4 separate regions of the Homo sapiens genome follow, and all the other regions are linked to region 2. Evidence: fine-mapped expression QTL. A gene starts in region 2. Each other region holds a variant in brackets. All regions are shown on one strand. Distances are from middle to middle.

The links. PIP is the estimated chance that this variant, and not a neighbour inherited with it, causes the effect.
Region 1: its variant is the best candidate, but not a certain one, in a credible set for the expression of DSE in whole blood (INTERVAL, PIP 0.74).
Region 3: its variant is the best candidate, but not a certain one, in a credible set for the expression of DSE in whole blood (INTERVAL, PIP 0.72).
Region 4: its variant is the best candidate, but not a certain one, in a credible set for the expression of DSE in whole blood (INTERVAL, PIP 0.84).

Annotation. Positions count from the first base shown.
Region 1 is chr6:116,451,075-116,456,278 of GRCh38, reverse strand. It overlaps the pseudogene CBX3P9. Among named protein-coding and RNA genes, the nearest start is that of CALHM6, 7.7 kb to the left of the region's middle. The variant C/T (reference allele first, on the strand shown) is at 2,829.
Region 2 is chr6:116,368,627-116,373,812 of GRCh38, reverse strand. DSE (dermatan sulfate epimerase) reads right to left here and starts at 2,866. Exons shown (of 6, transcript NM_013352.4): 1 at 2,692-2,866. LOC100287467 (a long non-coding RNA gene) reads left to right here and starts at 2,094. Exons shown (of 1, transcript NR_148944.1): 1 at 2,094-5,186. RefSeq lists enhancers at 1,995-2,495, 4,010-4,059 and silencers at 2,493-2,787, 2,550-3,079.
Region 3 is chr6:116,413,466-116,418,465 of GRCh38, reverse strand. All of the region lies in intron 2 of DSE (dermatan sulfate epimerase), which reads right to left. Among named protein-coding and RNA genes, the nearest start is that of DSE, 45 kb to the right of the region's middle. The variant A/T (reference allele first, on the strand shown) is at 2,171.
Region 4 is chr6:116,433,388-116,438,558 of GRCh38, reverse strand. DSE (dermatan sulfate epimerase) reads right to left here. Exons shown (of 6, transcript NM_013352.4): 5 at 5,009-5,171; 6 at 1-2,972. The coding sequence ends at 1,214. Among named protein-coding and RNA genes, the nearest start is that of CALHM6, 25 kb to the left of the region's middle. The variant C/T (reference allele first, on the strand shown) is at 3,055.

The sequences.
Region 1 (5,204 bases), 82 kb before region 2:
TGATTGGTTACAGCTTGGCATTTACCTTCTTTGAACACAGTTTGAACAGTTGACCCCCTTTGATTGGCCAAAACTTGTTGACTGGCACAACAGTAGGTTACAGTCTGCTTACATTACAGAGAAACCTTTAGGCTGAACTTAAGATACGTAAGGAGGCTGCTTTAGGATAAATTTGATTTAACAACTTAGAGAAACTAGATATGGCCAAGTCTTTGTTGACATCATCGTTGCTACCATTGTTGTTGTCACCGCCATCATCAATATCATCTGATACACTGAGGCTATTAAAGGTCCTAGTTAGTTTTCCTTCTGTGCTTTTTACGACCTATGTCTATTAGCAGTTTTGGTGAAACAATGTTTTCTCATTGTCTTAGTCTTTCAGTCTGCTATAACAAAATACCTTAGACTAGGTAATTTATAAACAAAAAATTATTTCTCACAGTACTGAAGGCTGAGAAGTCCAAGATCAAGATGCTAGCAGATTTGGTGTCTGCTAAGAGCCTATTCCTCATAGATGGCAACTTTCCTGTGTCTTCACATGGTGGAAGAGACAAGGCACCTCCCTTCAACCTCTTTTATAAGGGCACTAATCCCATTCACAAGAGTGAAGCCCTCATGATTTAATCACCTCTCAACAGGCCTCACCTCTTAATACTATTGTATTGAATACTAAGTTCCAACATAGGATTTTTGTGGGGACACCAACATTAGACCATAGCACCCATCAAATCAAATTGTTATTTCAGAGGTGAGAGAGAGAGTTGGAGAGAGAGACAGAGAGACAGACATAGAAAGAGAGAGAGAGCCACAATATGTAGCTACAAATTTATATATCCACAATATACATCCGGAATATATCCACAAATTTTAACATTCAGAAATATACTCCCTTTGGGATTAGGAGTGTCAGATTTTGTAAATTAACTTGTTAATTTTGGCATCCAGCATTGCATCTTGCACGTGATACCTAAGATATTTGAATCTTAACTTGATTTTACTCTCTTTGGAGGGTCTTGGGGCCAAGATTAATGCTGTATTAGAATCTAGCAGTCACATTCCAAGCAGGGTCATGTCATTAGTCTGCATTCTTATGAGAGCTGCAGAGCACAATGTGTGATAATGTGTGATGGAGCTTTGTTGTCAATGGGCACTTATCGTCACAATCCCAGTTCTCCTGAACTCAAATTTCCTTTACTAATTTATGATATATGATCAAAGATATGAATTTCCAAAGAAAACAATAATAAATAACAAGATTAAAGAATAAGAATGAAGAAAATAAAAATAACAATAAAACAAAATTTTGAGTTCTTCAAATTATAGATGACACTATTATAAAATCTCAGAAATTTAAATGAACTCTGTGGAGAGCATAAACTGTCATGGAAGATCTTCCCAAAAAGAATGCATCACTTGAAACTTGCTACAGTGTCAAGTTGTAGAGTACTATTTAAATAAGTTATGTAGTATTGGTGCATAGAATACAAAGTAGATCCATACCATTGAGGTAGATCTGTATGTGCTGGTATGGATGAAAAGACATGGAAGACATACTAATTGGAAAATAAGCAAGAACATTTCATGCAATCCATTTGTATACAACAGAAAATTTACTTTTCAAGAAAGCAGAAGAATGGAATCATGTATTGAAAAGAACTGTGGCTATTGACAAATATAGCTCAGAACTGTGGCTATTGACAAATACAGCTTGCTGGAATCAAAGAGATAAGAAGCTTACTAAAATTTGGGAGAGATTTACAGTCAAAGGAATCACAAGCCCAAGTAGACCTATGGTCTTCTGACATTACATAAGAAGGACACGCACTAAGAGAATTACACAGTCCCCAAGACGAATATATGCCCATTAGTACATGGCAAAGGAAGATAACAGAAGACCCTCCAGAGAGTGGAATCCTGAAAATCAAGGAACATTTCTGTATACTCAAGGTAGGAACTTTTATGGCTTTTGCCAAGTGGTAATTTAGTAAGCTTCTTATTTCTTTGATTCCAGTAAACAGTATTTGCCAATATCCACCATTCTTTCCAAGACATGGTTCTCAGATATACTCTATCATTTTGCTTTCTTGCCCCATCCTCCGTGTCTCTCTCTCTCTCCCTCTCTGTCTCTCTGTCCCTCTTTCCCTGGTCCTCCTATCTATCCTACCTTCCTCTGTCTCTTCCTCCCTCTCTATCTAGCTCTTCATGTCTCTCTATCTTTATCTCTCTCTTGCCATTACTGGTATCCTGCATATACATGAGTCTATGATTTTCTGTGGAAAAGCCACAACTTTAATTTGATCTTTGCCGTGTGTATTTATCCAATTGAATACCTTAATTTTATCTGCCCTGAAATTCCTTAATCTATTGAAAGGCATTATCATAGGTAGAGACAACATACTTTTAATTTTACCTATCCACAGGTTATTTTAATGGGCTTCATCTTTCAAGGCTTTCTCAATTTCTGACTTAGTATTTGGAGTTTAAAACCTGTTAGAATTTGCAATTTTGCAAGGCCCCAATTTTCTGAAATAGTTCCATTCCTTCTCATATTTGTTAACAAAGCAACCAATTCTTTTCTTGAGTTAAAAAAGCCTTGTCAAAAAAAAAAAAATAGCTAGTAGTGGTAGGCGCGCAGGGCCAGAGATGCTGCAGACCTGCGACCCGGAGCAGTTCGGAGGCGGTGAATAATATCTCATCAAGTCTGCTATAAAAAATGGCCTCCAATAAAACTACATTGTGAAAAATGGGGAAAAAAAACAGAATGGGAAAAGTAAAAAGTTGAAGAGGCAGAGCCTGAAGAATTTGTGGTGGAAAAAGTACTAGATTGA[C/T]GTGTAGTGAATGGGAAAGTGGAATATTTCCTGAAGTGGAAGGGATTTACAGATGCTGACAATACTTGGGAACCTGAAGAAAATTTAGATTGTCCAGAATTGATTGAAGCATTTCTTAGCTCTCAGAAAGCTGGCAAACAAAAAGATGGTAAAAAAGAAAATCTTTATCTGACAGTGAATCTGATGACAGCAAATCAAAGAAGAAAACAGATGCTGCTGACAAACCAAGAGGATTTGCCAGAGGTCTTGATCCTGAAAGAATAATTGGTGCCACAGACAGCAGTGGAGAATTGATGTTTCTCATGAAATGGAAAGATTCAGATGAGGCAGACTTGGTGCTGGCAAAAGAAGCAAGTATGAAGTGTCCTCAAATTGTAATTGCTTTTTATGAAGAGAGACTAACTTGGCATTCTTGTCCAGAAGATGAAGCTCAATAATTGTTCACATTGTTTTTTTATATATATTTATAATATATATAAAATTTGGGTCTTGGATTTTGATTTACTAGTGTGATGAAATAACTACATCCTAATGAAAATCAAGTTTGATATGTTCATTTTGAAAGTAGCGTTGGAAGAGTTGCTGGGGGGTTTTTTGAATCCATAGCACTGGTTACTTTGAACAAACAAAAGCTTTCTATAGTTGCTTCCTCTATCAGAAAAGAACATTTGATACCATGGTATATTATTTCCTCTTCATTAAAGAACAGCTTCTCTAAATGTTGGGGGAAATGTCCGTAGTCATTACTCAATCAAAACTTGTGTTCTCATAAGCCTAAGGACCATTCTAGATTTTTTACATGTTTTTTTTTTGTGTGTGTATCCATAAAATGCATATGTGAATTTTTTGTTTGTTTGTTTTTGAGCATTCACACAAACAAAAAAATCACAGGTAAGCCCATGTTTCTGAGATGCCATTATTCCGAGCAAAATAAGAGATAATCACTTCAAGTTAAATTGAAAATTTTCCTGAAGCCATGCATTTCAAGTGAAATAAGTAATTCTAAATAGGACAATTTAAATTGGATAATTTTAAATCATCTATAATTGCAGTGGTTTATTTGCAAAATTCCTAAAAGGAAAAATTTTATCACTGCCATCACAGCAGTTTTCCTCATCCAGATGAGGAAACTAGACAAATGCTAGTGTGTTTTAACTAGCTAAACAAAACTAAATTAAATGAACATTAAAAAATTTCCCTAGTGTGCCATTCCCTAACAAAATGTTGAAATCCCTGTTACTACATTGACTAAAAGGTAATGATGAATGGAATATGTAAGACTTGGCTCATAGAAACCTGATCAGATGGTTAGAGATGTTGGCAGTTTAGGACCTGCTGCTACAAATGTGTGAACAACCTTTTGTAATCTAACCTATTGACCTGCATGTTTTTTCTTTACCCCAACTCATTCCTTACATGTAGGCTCAATCTTCACTTTGCTTTACTGGTTCAGCAAAAGCCAGGAAGAACAACTTTGTAGTAATCAGAATGTTATTCAACTGTATATTGTTTACTTTATTGTAAATACTGGTGAACAGTGGTTAATAAATAATTTTATATTCCTTTAAAAAAATAGTAGTTGCTAACACACAGTAGACACATTATTTTCCAATCCTTTCCCTTAGAGTCTTATTTTCTTTAGCTACATAATCTTCCTCCAAGTTAATACAGAAGTTGGCTTTACCAACCACCACATAACAAGAATTGTCATCTATCTAGCCTCCATTATCAATTTCTATGCTGTCCACCACTGAACTGCGAAGCCCATGCCACATATTTTAGGGTTTTTAAATTAATAAAGCACCCTGCTTCAAATACCAATATCTGTTCAGAACTAGCCACAAGGTTTCACCGAACTGCAATGGAAAGAGGAAGTATGGTTCTTTCCCATGCCTTAAAGGCAGAGAACCTGACATGGACGAGTACAGGAAGTCTCCACCACATCTTCTATGACCAGTCTTTCTAAACAGTTCCCCATCCACCCCTTCACCTTTCTTAGCTGCATTTTTTCCTTATTACATGTAGGAGTTTTATCTTTCATTTGTTGCTTGTTAATTTTTGTTCGTCTCCTCCACTAGATTATACATTCCAAGAGGGCATGGATAACACCTGACTTAATCCTCTTTCAGTTACACAGGTCTTGGCATAGTGCCTAGGACTTTGTAGGTGTTCAGTACATATTTGTGGGAACAGTGAGTGAATCGATGAATGAATGAATGAGAAGCAGGCTTAGATTTTCTCTTCTCCTACTGCAGAGCCAGCACCATTCCTATTTTATTCAGCTTAGAATGTGAGCCCTTCTGCACAGGCCATGCCGGTCTGAGCACATCACACAGCTCAGAATAACGTAAGGAATCTTGAATTGCCAACCCTGTG
Region 2 (5,186 bases):
ATATTTTATTGTTTAATCGCAAAATGCACTTTCATCAGTGATCTTAAAGCACCTTTTCAGAAATTAAAAAGAGACTATAACGAGGCACTGGGAAGCATCTGCGAAGTTAAGAGCTTCATCTCATGGATGACCACCAGGTCCTCTCAGGGCAGCACTGCGAGATATTGAACCGGACAGCCCATAAAATCTCATTGAAAGGAACTGTATTAGCTTGTTTCTGAACGAATTTCGTAAATACTAAAGCAGATGTACACACAAACATTAGTCACTAAGATGGTCCTGATCTCACATAGCAAACCTAGTTGATGTCTCACCCAGTGCTTTTTCAACAGGTCCCCAAGATCAGGAAGGACAGCCTCAATCTAGCAGTATTGAGAATGGAACCTAATAACCCCATCATGGCAACTGCCTGTACTGTTATCAAAGTATCTCTTGGTCAAAGTTTCTTTTCAGATGGAGTCTTCTTCTGTCGCTCAGGCTGGAGTGCAGTGGCACAATCTCGGCTCACTGCAACCTCCGCTTCCTGGGTTCAAAAGATTCTTCTGCCGCAGCCTCCCAAGTAGCTGGGACTACAGGCGCGCGACACCACGCCCAGCTAATTTATTTTTTGTTTTGTATTTTTAGTAGAGACCGGGTTTCACCATATTGGCCAGGCTGGTCTCGAACTCTTGACCTGGTGATCCACCTGCCTCGGCCTACCAAAGTGCTGGGATTACAGGCGTGAGCCACCGCACCCAGCCCTTTTTTTTTTTTTTAATTCCCCTTCACTTGGTGACTGTACTTTCAGTATTTTTTAAACTGTCAGAATGTACTTTTTAGGCCAGTGTTTTTATTTAACTAAAACTTCATAAAAACGGATACTGACGTCATATACTAGTCAATGAAAAATAACTCTTCCCAAGCTCAAACTTAGGAAGTGCTGCTTATTGATGTTTCTCAGGTTCTACATTAGCAGCTCCAAGAGAGCTAAGGCTGATCTCATATACCTGTGTATGTAACCTAGGTAACCAGCACTATCTTGCACTTTTTGCTGAACCCACACAGACGGGTCACTAGGTGATGGAGACATCAAATTCAATCTGTTATCTTCTCCATTTTTACTAGAACAGACCTTACCTACATACTTCAGAAAAGAACTTATATCTGTATCGTGACCGTCAAAGGAAGAGGTCACAATACAGAAATCTAAGTATTTGCATGAAACAAATACTCAGATAATCCTATATTTTATTTTCTTCCATGCACATTAGGTTTTTTGTGATCCCATTTAGTAATATAGTTAGAATACTCTATACAATATTGTTTATCACTATTTCACATAGAGATTATCATTGAGAATTTTGTTTTGTTTTGTTTTGAGCCTGTCGCCCAGGCTGGAGAGCAGTGGCGCAATCTCGGCTCACTGCAAGCTCCGCCTCCTGGGTTCACGCCATTCTCCTGCCTCAGCCTCCCGAGTAGCTGGGACTACAGGCGCCCGCCACCACGCCCGGCTAATTTTTTGTATTTTTAGTAGAGACGGGGTTTCACCGTGTTAGCCAGGATGGTCTCGATCTCCTGACCTCGTGATCCGCCTGCCTCGGCCTCCCAAAGTACTGGGATTACAGGCGTGAGCCACTGCGTCCGGCCGAGAAATTTTTTAAAAACTTGAGGGAATTACTTAAAGTTTAAATTCTATAATGTGAAAAATACTAAAAATATGTATAAGTGAGATCTTTCATGCATTTAATTAACAGTGCTAAACCATGACTTTCTAAACCATGACCAACGAAAAAATTTTTAAAAAGAACTTTATTACACGAAGATTCCTAGAACTAAAAGCGTCATTGCCTGACCTAAAGAATTTCAGGTAAGTGAGGTTCACCTCCTGATTTTAACCAAAGGCTTCGGTTTCCATCTGAATGCCAGCCGGCTTAAGAGGAGGCTGCTGCTTTAAAGGAGCGATATAAACGAAAAAGTTCTCAGGTCACAAACTTAGCTCAGATTCCAGCCCCGACAGATCTTGAGCCCATGTGGCATCGCTTTCAGAGCTTCCCAGTCTGTGAGTCAAGCCCCCGCCTCCTCCCCTCCCCGGGACTGCCTCGGGGATGAGGTTTACTAACAATTTCTCCGAGTGCCGGCGGAGCCCAGGAGCGCTGGAATCCAGCGTCTGGGAGAGGCTTGGGGAGCTCTTCCTCGGCTTCTGCAGCCGCAAAGTAGGGTTGCCAGCGCCAGGATCTGCACACAAGCCGCCGCCACCTCCCCTGCCCCCAAATGGCTGGGGTACGGAGGGAAAGGAGGACGCGAGGGTGTGCCACCCAACCCCGCAGAGTGAAGCCGAGGCCCCAAGGACCGTCGAGGAAATCGCGGCTGGGCCGGCCAGATCCGACGCACGGAATGCGATCTCCAGGTTCTCATCGTGTTCCCGGCTCGGTGCTCGGCGTTCAAGGGGGTGGGGAGGATCGAAAAGCTGCCCCTCGAGGCTGCTCCGCCGCCGGGGAAGCCCGTGGCTCAGGCTTCACGCGTCAGGCGCTCTCTCGGAGTCCAGCCGAGCCGGGCCCGGGCGCGCAACCCGCGGCGCTCCGCTCTCAGCCGGGGACGTGGCTCTCCGTCTCCCGCCCGCGCCGGGACAGCCCCGAAGGCTACCCGCCCGAAACTCCCGAAGAAAGTTGCGCCGCGCGCCCCAGCTCGTCCCTTGCGCGCCCCTCCACTTACCGCTCCCAGCCGAGGCTTCGTTCTCTCCGGCGTCGCCTCCGCAGCCTCCAGAGCCAGCTCCCGGTCCTCCTCACTCCAGGGCGCCCGGGCTCCCGGCCCCCTCCGAACCGAGCCCTCCGCGCCCCCGCCGCGCCATGCCCCGGGATGCGCTGCTGCAGCCTCGGGCGACGCTACTGAGAGCCGGGCCGGCGGGGGCGGGTAGGTGTGGGCGAAAGGGGCGGAGGGAGGGACGCGGCGGGCGCTGAGGCTCCGCTGGAGGGGGGAGGAAACCGCAACGTCACCAGAGCCAGAGGAGACGAGGATGAGGAGAGGGAAACGGGGACCCCCTCCCCCGGCCGAACCCCGACCGCAGGCCCGCCCCGCTTTCTCCCGCTCCTCCTCTCCCGGGACTCGCCGCTCGCAGCTGTGCTCGGCCTTCCACGCCACCCGGCCCGGACTCCACCCGCACCCCCGCCCGCCAGGCCTCTTTGGCTCTAACTTGTTCTAGTTTCTTAGGACTCAAACGCTTCGGGTTCGAGAATCACACCCAAAGGAAAGGTAACTTTTGGAGGCCCAGGGGGAGGAGCTGATGCTTCCATACTACTCTGCGAGAGGAAAGCGAGGAAGACGTTAAGACTCTTACTACCGGGACTGGTGCCCACTCCAGTCTGCCTCCTCCCGAATAGTTACTGCCTCTTTTCTCTCGAATTCGGTTTTACTCTCTTCTCAAAGAGAAGTTAGTGGGAGGGGGGACTTTGGGGCGGGGGTCACCTATAGAGAAGCAGTTCTCTTTTTTACTGTACCAACAAAATACACTAAATCCAAGCGCACCGAACCCTGCAAACGGAACAGATTTTAATCACAGAAGGTCAGGAGCAAAGCATTTAATGTAGGCAGCTCACAAACAGAAATTTATCTTACGCGGTGGGGGGGTGTGTGTGTGTGAGAGAGAGAGATCCCTCATGCACCCAAGTTCAGGTGGAGCATTTGCAACCTTGGTAGTCACAGCCTCCTGGAGAAGAGTCCTCCTGTTTTCCAAAAATCAGCCACTGCTCAAACACGCTCAGCCAGGTCCAACCAGGCCCCAAGGAGATGTGAGGTAGGATCAGGGCCATCACCTCAGGAATACTTTGCCCCTTCCACCTCCACCCAGTGTGTGCAAGTAACCTACCAGACCTAGATTGTACAGAAGTGAAAGATTTGTAGGATACTTACCCATTCATTAGAATGAGAGATATTTTACTGGGAGCAGTGCTTTTCTCCATGAGTTCTGAAGGGCACCTCCATCCAATTCCTCTATCCTCAGAGGTTCTCACTTCTATTTGGCCAAATAAGGAAAAAATGTGGATGTCTCAGTTTATGCTTCTCTTTTTCAGAAATTGCATTTAAGAGGAACTCCTTACAAACAGGTCAAGAGGAAGTGGTACTATTAAATTTTTTAAATGTTCACTCAGGTGAACCACTAATTTGCATAAACTTCTTGATGCTTTAGGGAAGGCCTGTCGAGGAGAGAAGAGGGCTCTGGAAACTGGAACTAATCTTTGGTTCAAATCCAAACTTTGCTTTTACTACTGTGGGCCTTGGAAAACTAACATCAGAACCTCAGTTTCCTCATCTATAGTGTAACAATATAATACCTTGTTTGAACAGTTATGGAGAGGATATAATAAAAATAGCTAATGTTTATTGAGAGTTTACTACACCATATCAGACGGTCACTGTGCTAAGAGATTTACATATACTAATTCAATTATTAGAATAAATTGTGAAAGTGTCTAGCTGTATTATGTAATCCGTAAGTGTTAATTTCCATTTATCTTCTCAAATTTGAAAGAGACTTTAGAAAAAACATCTGGTTTAATTTACGTAACCTCTCAGCAAGTAGTAGTCTAGTTCAGTGATTCTCCAACCTAGAACTTTAGAATCAGCAGGGGAGCTATAATAAATTCTTTCCAATGGGGACCCCCACGCAAGAACAACAAATCAGAATCTCTGAGGTTAGGGTCTAAGCATCAGCATCTGCATTTTAAAATCTCTTCCTAGATGATCACAATGTACAACCAGGATTGAGAATTCTTCAAAGGAGGTAGTACTGACTGTCATTTGCTCCCCTTTACCCTCACACCCCCCACAATTTTGCTTTTGAGTGACCTGCGAATTGGCCTCTGGATGACATTCACTTTGTGCAAAGCCCCCCCCGTCCCCCCGCCCCCGCCCACCCCATTACAGTAAGTCTCAACAGATCTGCTATTCTGCTCTCTGGAATCTACAGGATACACCTAGCCTTGATTCCACAGGAGAATACTTCAATTTACCTGGGTACATATTAACTCCATCAGCTTTTCTTCATCCATTAGGAAAGCTCTCAGGAGGAGATTTACTTTGCCAACATCTCTCTCAAACCCTGATGCCAAGAATTGAATTCAAGGTTTCACCCAAGTGACAAACTAGAAAGATGTTTAATGGCTTTGTTGTAATTACTGTATTTCCCTAAGTATATCCTTGGAGCTTCCATG
Region 3 (5,000 bases), 45 kb before region 2:
TGAGCCTGCACACCTAATGTACTACTCTAAGGTAGAGTTGGTCCAGGGGATGGTGGTTCTGGTTTGCATCTTCAGAACCTTGGGCCCCTTAAGGTAGTAACAAACACTCTCTTCGTGATCAAACCCTAGCCAGGCTCCTCTGTGCCTTCTTGGCTAGGCCTCAACCTCATTCCATGAAGAGTAAACACTAACAAGTTTCCAATACCTCAAGGTCATATCCCTGAGATGACCCTCTCCCTGTTGAAAGTGTCTGCCTAAGAAACTCAAGGCTTCCAGAAAAATTTTGTTTGTTCCTGTCAACATTTGAGGATAGGGTCTCTGTCTTTCAGTCTCTGTGGGAGGATAGAATTCTACCCTCGATAATTGCCACTTAGCAGATGTGTGATTAGCTGGCCTAATCACATGTACATTGACTACCCTTTGTAATTTTTCTCTTTCCTGGCTCTACTAAGCCCCTGCTTGCCCTCCTCCCTTTAAAATGCCTATTCACCTCTGTACAAATTGACGTTCAGTTCAGTTTATGCTGAACTCTTTTCCTACTGAAATACTTACTACTGATTAAAACTTATCCTTGCCACTTTAGTGTCCGGTATTGTTTACCTTTGACACTGGCCAGGGCTAGAGTACACAGAAATGGACAATGAGCTTTCCTTTTTCAATATCTACTTTGGGAACAAAACTACTTGCCCTTTCTGGAAACAATTGCTAGAAGGATGAACGGTATGACAGAATGGGAACTCATTGTATATTAAGACTTTTTCAGGGAAAATAACTTATTAGCTCTGAAATGTAAAAAACTATTTCCTCTTACAATCTATATTTCTATATTAATTAAATCACTGGATTTAATATAGCAGTACATTACCACTTAATTTCATTTTAATGCTGTGAATTCAATATCCCAAATATTAAATTCTAAAATATATAAAATTTAAGTCAACTTGGCCCCACTCAAGCAGAATACTGAGGAGTCAATTATGCCAAAGCAGACATTAAAAGAAACACATTTTACTCAAATGAAAAGTATTCTAGATGATTTGTAAATAAAAAGAATCGAAGTGTCGGAATATACCAAGTTAATTAAAATAAAATGTAGAGTAGTACTGTTAAATGGGAAAAGGCATTTCCATGTCATTATCTCAATGTTTACTTCCATGACATGAAGTGTTATTACCCAAATATCCAAGCATGCCACCCAAACATAATCTATTTAAATGGAATCAAACAACATTTATAATTGTAATCCCTTTTAACTGAGTAAGTATACTTTGCCCTAATATTCAACCTACAAAAGGTGAGAGGAAGAAACATGATAAGTAAAAATTATTCAAATTTAGGAACAAGACCTCTATTTTGGTAGAATGGCATAGCTTAAAGACTACGGTTAAAAATACACTTACATATCAAATTCTAATGACAAATTCTTAAAGAATCTATTATAATGGAGAAATTTTAAAACCTGGAAAGGCAATAGGAGGGAATAACCAGGTCTGCCTATATTGTTCATGAAAATTATAATTTAATGATATTTACCCATTTTAAAAAGGAGCTTGATATTTTAAATGCCTAACATGTTTTACAACTGTATGTGTAAAATATGTTTCAAAAAGTTCAGCTGGACAACTTTTTGATGTTATCACTCAGTCAATGTCTATGCAAGCATCCAGTGATCATGTGAGAAGCCATACAGACAACTGCCAGTTAGCAATTGTCAGTAGTCAGTATGATTTTAAGAAAAAAAAAAATAAACATGCAAGAATAGCCAGGATGATGGACAGTGGCCAGTCCTGTCAGAGAAGAAAATATAATATATAAATGTTGGCTTGGGCAAGAACTGAGCAGTTATAATAACTGTATGTAGTTGACACATTTATTTATCTTATAAAAATTTAATATAAATTTTATAACACACAACATCAAAAATATACCATCTATTTTAAATATAACATGACTCCGGAGGACAAGAAGTCTATAATGAAGAATAAAAATCTAAAGATTCTGAACACCAAGTATTTCCCAATGAAAAAGATTTAATCAAACTATCAACCTTATAGTGCAGTCAAAAAGCTACACACACACACACACACACACACACACACACACACACACACACACAGTGGCAATTAGCTGTTTAGAACCTGTGACAGGCAAAATAACAGTCCCCCAAGAA[A/T]CTGTGCATACATTACCTTCCACTGGGGCAAAGGGACTTTGTAGATATGATTTAAAACCTTGTGATGGGAGATTATTCTAGATTACCCAGGTGGTCCCAATCTAGTCACACGGGTCCTTAAAAGCAAAGAACCTTTCTTGGCTGTAGTCGGAGAGAGATGTGACCATGGAGGAAGAATCAAAGAGATGCAAGGTTGCTAGCTTTGAAGGTGGAGGCAGGGAGCTACAAGCAAAGGAATATATGTGAACTCCAAAAGCTAGAAAAAGGCAAAGAAAAGTATTCTGCCCTAGAGCTTCCAGAATAAAATGTAGCCCTGCTAACACCTTGATTTTAGCCCTGTGTTACACTTCTACAAAACTGTAAGATCACTCTGTGCTGTTTTAGGCCACTGAGTATGTGGTAATTTGTTACAGCATTTGTATGCATTTTTAGGCAGTCAAGGACTACCAGAGATTTGTGGAAATCCCATAATAGGACAAAAGAGACCCAAATGAACAAACTCATTAATGCAGCTTGGGAGAAATTAAACCATGCAGGCAGAAAGAAATTTCAAGACAAAAGAAGCTCTTGAAATGGAAAACAAAATAGCAGGAAGGTAAGTGCAATAAAAGGGCTGGGGAGAAAAGTTGAAGAAACCTTGAAAATGCAAAAAAAGTAAGAAAATAAAATAGAAAACAGCAGAGGAAAAAAAAAAAAGAGGACTGGCCCAAGAGGTTAAACATGTGAAAAAGAAGAGAGGAAAAAAAAAAGAAAGAAAAAAGAAAAAAGGGGGAAGAAAAGGAGATCCAAATATATCAAGGAAAATTGCTAGAACTAAAGGGGATAAGTTTCCATATTGAAAGAATCCATGAAGTGCACAGTACACAGACTCATCTCAAAACAAGATACATCATCCCGTAATTTCAAAACACTAGTAACATAAAAAAGATCCTATATGCTTCAGAGTGGAATATCAGGTTTCATTCAAAGCATCAGGAATAGTGGGGTCAGACATCTCAACAGCAACACTAGACACTAGTATACAATAAAACAATGACTCCAAAACTCAGAGAGACAATTTCCAGACTATAATTTCATATCCAGCCAAGCTACCCTTTAAACTTGAGGGAAGAAAAAACATATACAGACATCCAAGGTCTCAAAATTTACCTCTCATAAATGCTTTCTCTGGAAGCCAGTGGAAAATATCTCCACCTAAATTAGGATGTATATCAAAAAGAAGACATGGCACAAGGAATCCAATTCAAGAGAAAAAGGAACAAAGATGGCTGTACAGCAGACCTGGCTGCAAGCAATCCACATCCTAGCATGTCAAAAAGATGCAGCATTACTTCTTCAAAAAGATGAATTATTTTTAAAAAATGTCTTATTAAGAATGTCTTGTTTGAATAGATAGAAAACTTACACAAGAGTGAGAGTCTGGCTGGTCACTAGAGATAACCATATAAAAAACTTACCAAATAAAACAAAAAGCTATTATGAATCCAAGAGAAAACAAAGAGTTGTACACACATTGAAAAGTCATTACAGTATACAATATAGTTCAGTTGTCAATAACTTTTGCCTTGTTAAAATATGCAAACAGGCTGGGCGTGGTGGCTCACACCTGTAATCCCAGCACTTTGGGAGGCCGAGGCAGGCGGATCACCTGAGGTCGGGAGTTCGAGACCAGCCTGACCAACATGCAGAAACCCCATCTCTACTAAAAATACAACATTAGCTGGGCGTGGTGGCACATGCCTGTAATCCCAGCTACTAGGGAGGCTGAGGCAGGAGAATCGCTTGAACCCAGGAGGTGGAGGTTGCGGTGAGCTGAGATCGGGCCATTGCACTCCATCCTGGGCAACAAGAGCGAAACTCCACCTAAAAAAAAAAATGAGCAAACACTTGATATTCCACTCATTAAAATTATGGCATATTTATAAAATAAAACAGATCTATATTGTAATGAAATAACTTATCTGTGTCAGAGTGAGAGAGAGATGATGCATTTGCAAGCCAAGAACACCAAAGATTGCCTACAACCACCAGAAGCTAGGAGAGCAGCTTAGGATGGTCTCTCCTTCAGAGAGCCTCCAGAAGGAATGAAGCCTATTGATATCTTGATTTCAGACTTCTAGCTTCCAGAACTGAGAGAGAATAAATTTCTGTTGGTTTAAGCCACCTAGTCTATGGTATTTTGTTACAGCAGCCCTAGCAACAAATACACCGACACTAAAAAACCTGACCGGCCATTGCTGCCACCTCGTACACTCCCCATCATCTTCCTGTCGCTGCCTGAACACTCAGTTACTCCCATTTACTTGAAAGAGCACTTGCCTAATATTCTGAGAACACGGCAGGCAAAAGGGCAAAGAATTACTTGAGGAATGAAGTTTCAAAATAATGAGGGACACTTTTTCACAATGGGAAAAACCGTAGTCAAATCACCAATTTTTGCTGCCCTCATGGTGGGAAAACATCAAATCCAAAGTGAGGTAGGCCTGGAGGAGCTAGCATACGTGAAATGATATTTTGCTGTCTCTTAGAGTACGGTTAATATATTTACCCACTATTTCTGCTTTTAATGTTTTATGAATAATTTTCTTTGATAATTTGATTTTTAAAGGTTTTGCTGAAATTATGCAGAGCTTCATAAAATCCAGAGGCCTTTTTAAAACAGTGAATGAACTGTGGCTGATTTTACTCTGGGTGCAGTAGGAAATAATGCTCTGCACAGTTTATTCCATTCAGCCCCGGAAACCTGACATATAATCATTAATCACAGGCCTGTACTGTTTCTTAATGAAATAAAGATGCTTCCCAATACATTTTGAGAATAAGCATTCTA
Region 4 (5,171 bases), 65 kb before region 2:
TCTATGCTGCTGTTACCTTCTGAGGAGTTGATTGAAAATTTTATGCTTTTAAAAGTTGGGTGCTACTTAAATATCAGAATTGGCTATTGTTTTAAATATTTAAAATATGCTTAAACAACAATTAAGGTTAATAAGCAGAGAAAATACTTCTTTTGATTCAAACACTACTTTATATATTTAATGAATACACGTCCAAATAAAGATCTCTCTTCAAAAATTTTGGAAAATGTTAATGCATTTTGAATATAATGGAACAAAGAAGAAGAATACTAGAGAAAATTCACAATTATGATGTTTATTTAGGAAAATAAACTTGAAGAAGGTTTTCTATTAAAAAAACATAAGAATCATATCCAAATTTTAGACTCTCCATCTTCTTTGGTATGAAAATCAACATTCATAATAGAAAATATTTTCTTTTGAAAGGTTTAGTTGTTATTGGGTCTATAACGGTTTTCCATATAAGGAAAATACAGTATTATCTGTAATCATCTCACTTATTGAACAACCAATGAATGCATGCAAGTAACCAAGCATATGTGTGCAGAGACCAGCATCAAGGAAATATTCATTCATAGATAAATGTTTTCTAATAAAATATATTTTAAGTTTTTAATGATCTTCTGCTATCATTTTTTGCCATGTTATCTGAATAGCCATCCAGATCTGTAGTAAAACATCCTGTTAGTTACATAACTCAAGAAGTACTTCCCCAAGGAAGCTCACACCATCATACCAGGACTTAGCAACATTTATCTTTCAACATGAGTATACCATTAAAATTTTTTTATATTTCTCAGAATTGTATTCTTCAGTCTTTTCCACAATATAGTATATGGAAATTGCTAATAGCATTAAATTAATATTAATAAAACCCAATTCTATCTAAACCTTTTTCTCATAAGAAAAAACATTACTTTAAAAAATAGACTTTTTGTTTCTTCTAAAAGTAGTACTATATGGACTGCTCAATTAGCAATGCCAAATACTTCCAAAAACACCATAGGACCACCAAGCTATTTCTATTGCTTTGATAATTTCTTTTCCTGCTCCAATTTCTCCACGTTCCTGCTTTCTTGTGTCAAAATATCTTCCCTTAATTTGTTAAAATGAATCTGAGGGAAAAAAATCTGATAATCTGGGGTAAAGAAATTTTTTTTTTTGCATAGACTCTTGTGATCACAAAATGACCAGGTAATTTATAGCTTCAGTGCTAACACTGTGATTGGGAACAAGAAGAGTACAACCATAATAAAATACAGCTATCTATGAGAAGAACTGCATAAAGACATCTTTGGCCATGTAGGCTCTGGGCCCTCTGGAAATAAGTCAGTTGCATTGCCAACATGACAAAGAAAATAGCAATGTTCAGAATCAGGAACAACCTGGTATAGGAAGCAGACAGTGATGGGGCCCTGCTGTGTGTAGTTGTCACCATCCGTGCCTGTCCAAACCGGCCTTTAATCAAGCCCCCATTTTTATGTTTCTCGTATGTTACATCTGCAAAATCTAAAAGGTCTTTCATTTCTTCATCTTCATCTATGGGTAGTTCTTTCTGTGCCAAAATCTGAGCTTTCTGTCTAATCTTTTTCTCATTGACTTCAATCTGTGCAAAAATATCAGGGACAGCATCCACAAATTTATAGCGTTTGCCTGCCCTTCGGTTTTTCTTTGACTTGCTTTGCTGCTGCTGTTGCTGTGATATGGCAAAAATCCTGTCAATGGCCTCCTCAGTCTGTCTCTTATCTGAAAATCTCAGCAGGCGTTCAGCAGTCTTCCTAAAGCTAGCTGTGTTCCGGACTCGGGACAGTATCTGCTTCTCCAGCAGCTGAAACACTGGTTTAAAATGCTGCAAGTTCTGTTCCACAATAGCAGCATAGTCCTTCACCTCAGGGACAATGCTGCTCTTGATGGCTGAATTCCGGTCAAACAGAATTTTGTGACGATCAGCAATGACCTGTGCAAAGGCAGACTGTCCTGTGGCCTCACCTGTCCACAGGTATGTGGCGTAGGCATGTTTGCTGGTGGCTATGAACACATCCAGTTGCTGAGAGTCTCCGTGGACAGTGAAGCTCTGAACATCTATAGATGGCCCTATGAAGAGGTAAGCTGCCCTGGTGATGGGACTTCGGAGGTGCATGGTGACATTCACATAGTTTGTCCCATTGTAGGGATAGCCCCGAGGATATGTCACTGAGGCAAAGGTTGCTTTCTCGCTGTAGCCAGTATCGTCCATCCAGTACATTTTATAGAGACCATCTCTCTGCCTGATGAAAGCCCCATGGACACCATCTACCACAGTCTCCTCAAAAGGAACATCCACATTATGGAAGAAGCTCGCTGCTGTCTCCAAGGGACTCTCCTCTCCCAGGTGTATTTGGTCTACAAGGAGAAGCAGCTGTGGATGTAGGAGGATGAGATTCCTCTGAACATTCTTCAGGTTGAGCTGGGGGTTATAAGCTCCCACACCTTCTCCTCGGATGAAAACCACCCCATTTTTCTCCTCTGCTGCAACCACCCTCCCCTGACAACTAGCTGCCAGGTCATGCTTGTATTTAGACCATTTTGATGAGCAGTCTTCTGTGACCTGACCCACCCAGGGAGAAAAGCAGCTCTTTGACACAGCTGGGGAAAACATCAAAACATTGTTGAAGAAGGTGTACTTTGGCCCGTACAGAGCCTCAGTAATGAAAGGCACACCATTGGGAGCAAAAGTAAATGAGTTTTGATCAGGATGTTCATGCCCTGCATTAAAATTTCTCCATCCTTTGATCCAATCTTTGTATTTGTTTCTGTGGACAATGTCATATATTGCACGTCCCCCCAGTTTTCCAGACTTGAAGGAAAGGAAAGATCTATTGATTTCTGCAGGTAGTGCACTTCCATAAGTCACGACACCCCAGTCTTCAAAATAATGCAGTGTAGGGGTGCCAAAGTCTGGAGGAGGAACCGATTTCAAGCTGCCATCATACCTGAAATTAATTTTGAAAAATTAAATGGTTTTCTGATGGCAGTGAAAATAACACATAACATGGTAATGTGGAAGATGCGACA[C/T]ACAAATGCTACCCAGAGCACTGGCAGTGCAGAGTATATTAGGGACAATTCTAAAAATATCCAAGGACAACCAGTATGCACAAAGGGAAACCCTTGGTGACTGGAAGAGGAATATTTCTTTATCATTTGTGATCCTTGGGTTTGGGCCCGAAATGATTTCTGCTCTAATCTCTACATGGACTATCTTCACTTGATGATGTCAGAGTGACCATTCAAACTACTGGGCCTCATGGATTTAAGCACTTCATCCAAATTTCTGGTTGAGGGGCTCCTCTTCTAGAAATGCCATGTTAGAATCTGGACTCTAACAAGCCTTGAGTTGTAATAAAGTATAGTTCTGCAGTAACTGATATTATTGAATGTTTGGTATTGAAAAGAGTTCTCCCTCAAGATTTTTTTCCTTGAAAAAATAAACTGAAATAGAGGAGAACTTCACATATTAGATAAAATGTATCACCAACACCACATCTCAGAATATAAATGGATGAAGTTTCAGCAAACTGTCTTATATTGAGGGATTTATAATTGTGCCTACTACTGACCAGCCAGGTCCAAAGGTTTGGTTTTGTTTTAATCTGCAGATGATGCCATGCTTCTTGGACAATAAATGACTTCTTATTTTCATTTATGATAAATGTTTATTATTAGCACTATGTACTTTTCCCTAAAGTAAATCAATCACCTAGAGTTAATCTTATTGGTGTTTGATATTGACTGTTTCATCTGTTGTTCTAGAGTCTCAGTTTCAAGACATCAGAAATTATATCTCTACTTAGGTCTAGTATAATGTTGGCTTAATTAATGTGATTTAAAAAGTGTAGATGTAAGCTGAATTGGCCATCTTACTCTCAGTTTTTGGTCAGTTTGCATATTGCTATAAAGGCAGATTTTTAAGTTAGACTTAGCATTAATCTGACCTATTAATCCTGTAGTTAGCTTTATAGAACTCTCTTCATTGAATATTTATGAGTAACTTATTTATGGGTTACACTATTAAGTAATTATGTCATACTCCTGAGAGAACTCAAGGATGGTTGCATCTTAATATGTTTAGTTTATCTATGAAAATAATCTTAAATTGTTGGTTAAACTATAGACACCATTTTACTAATATTTTTTCCTCCTTAATTTTTTTGTATTTTGAAAAAAAAGGATAAAGAGAAGCAAACCACAAGAAAGCTTGTTTTGGAGTTGAATGCAAATTTCAACAGCTTGAAAAGACATCAGGGATTAATGATTAATCAGTTCCCTGTAATTTTGATTTTAACTTATTGGATGCCAACAACATATTTGGCAATACTTTAAAAAGGAGACCCAAGCTTCTCTTTCTGGGCTTAAAAGATTAAGGCAAAAAAATTTATACGGTCCTTTTATTATCAAAGTGAAGCTGTCAAATACTGTCAAACACTTTTAAACACTTTTGAAAATTTAGTAACAGCTTTGCTATTAGAAGATTATAATGCTCCATTTACCAAAACAAAATATTTTACTACCTTTTTTTTGGTGTGATTATCAGAATAACCTAGTCTAAATTTTGTGTTTTGTTTTATATGCTTTCAAAAAATGATGTAAAATCAAAACATGCTTATTTATGAAATAGTGCAAGTGTAGGACAGCTCTAATATGAGAACCAAAAACTGAAAACAGTAATTAGATGTTAAACATAAAGAAATGTTTCTAACACTACCTATTAGGTACTATGCTCACTACCTGGGTATACTGCACATGTACCCCTGTATCTAAAAGTTGAAATTTTTTTTTAAAAAAGAAAAGTTTCTAAGAGTTTCAAAAACAGTGATATGAGTTGAATTGAAACTTCATATACTCAGGTGGCATGGAGAAAAGATTTAAAAAGTGTTTTAGTTTTTCTTTTTAAATGCAAAAAAACAAGTGCATAGCATGAATAGTACCCTTGGGTACCATTTCTCTTTAAAGCTAGCCCAATGTGTCATACCAGAGAAATTCTGTGTGCAGAGTGCACCAGCGCTGCCCTTTGGATGGTGTTCCTGGACCTTCCACCACACGGTTCCTTCTGATTTGGTCAGCTAGCCAGTTACCACTGCCATTACGCATGACAAATTTATCAAGGAACACTAATTGGCTTTCTGGACCATAAA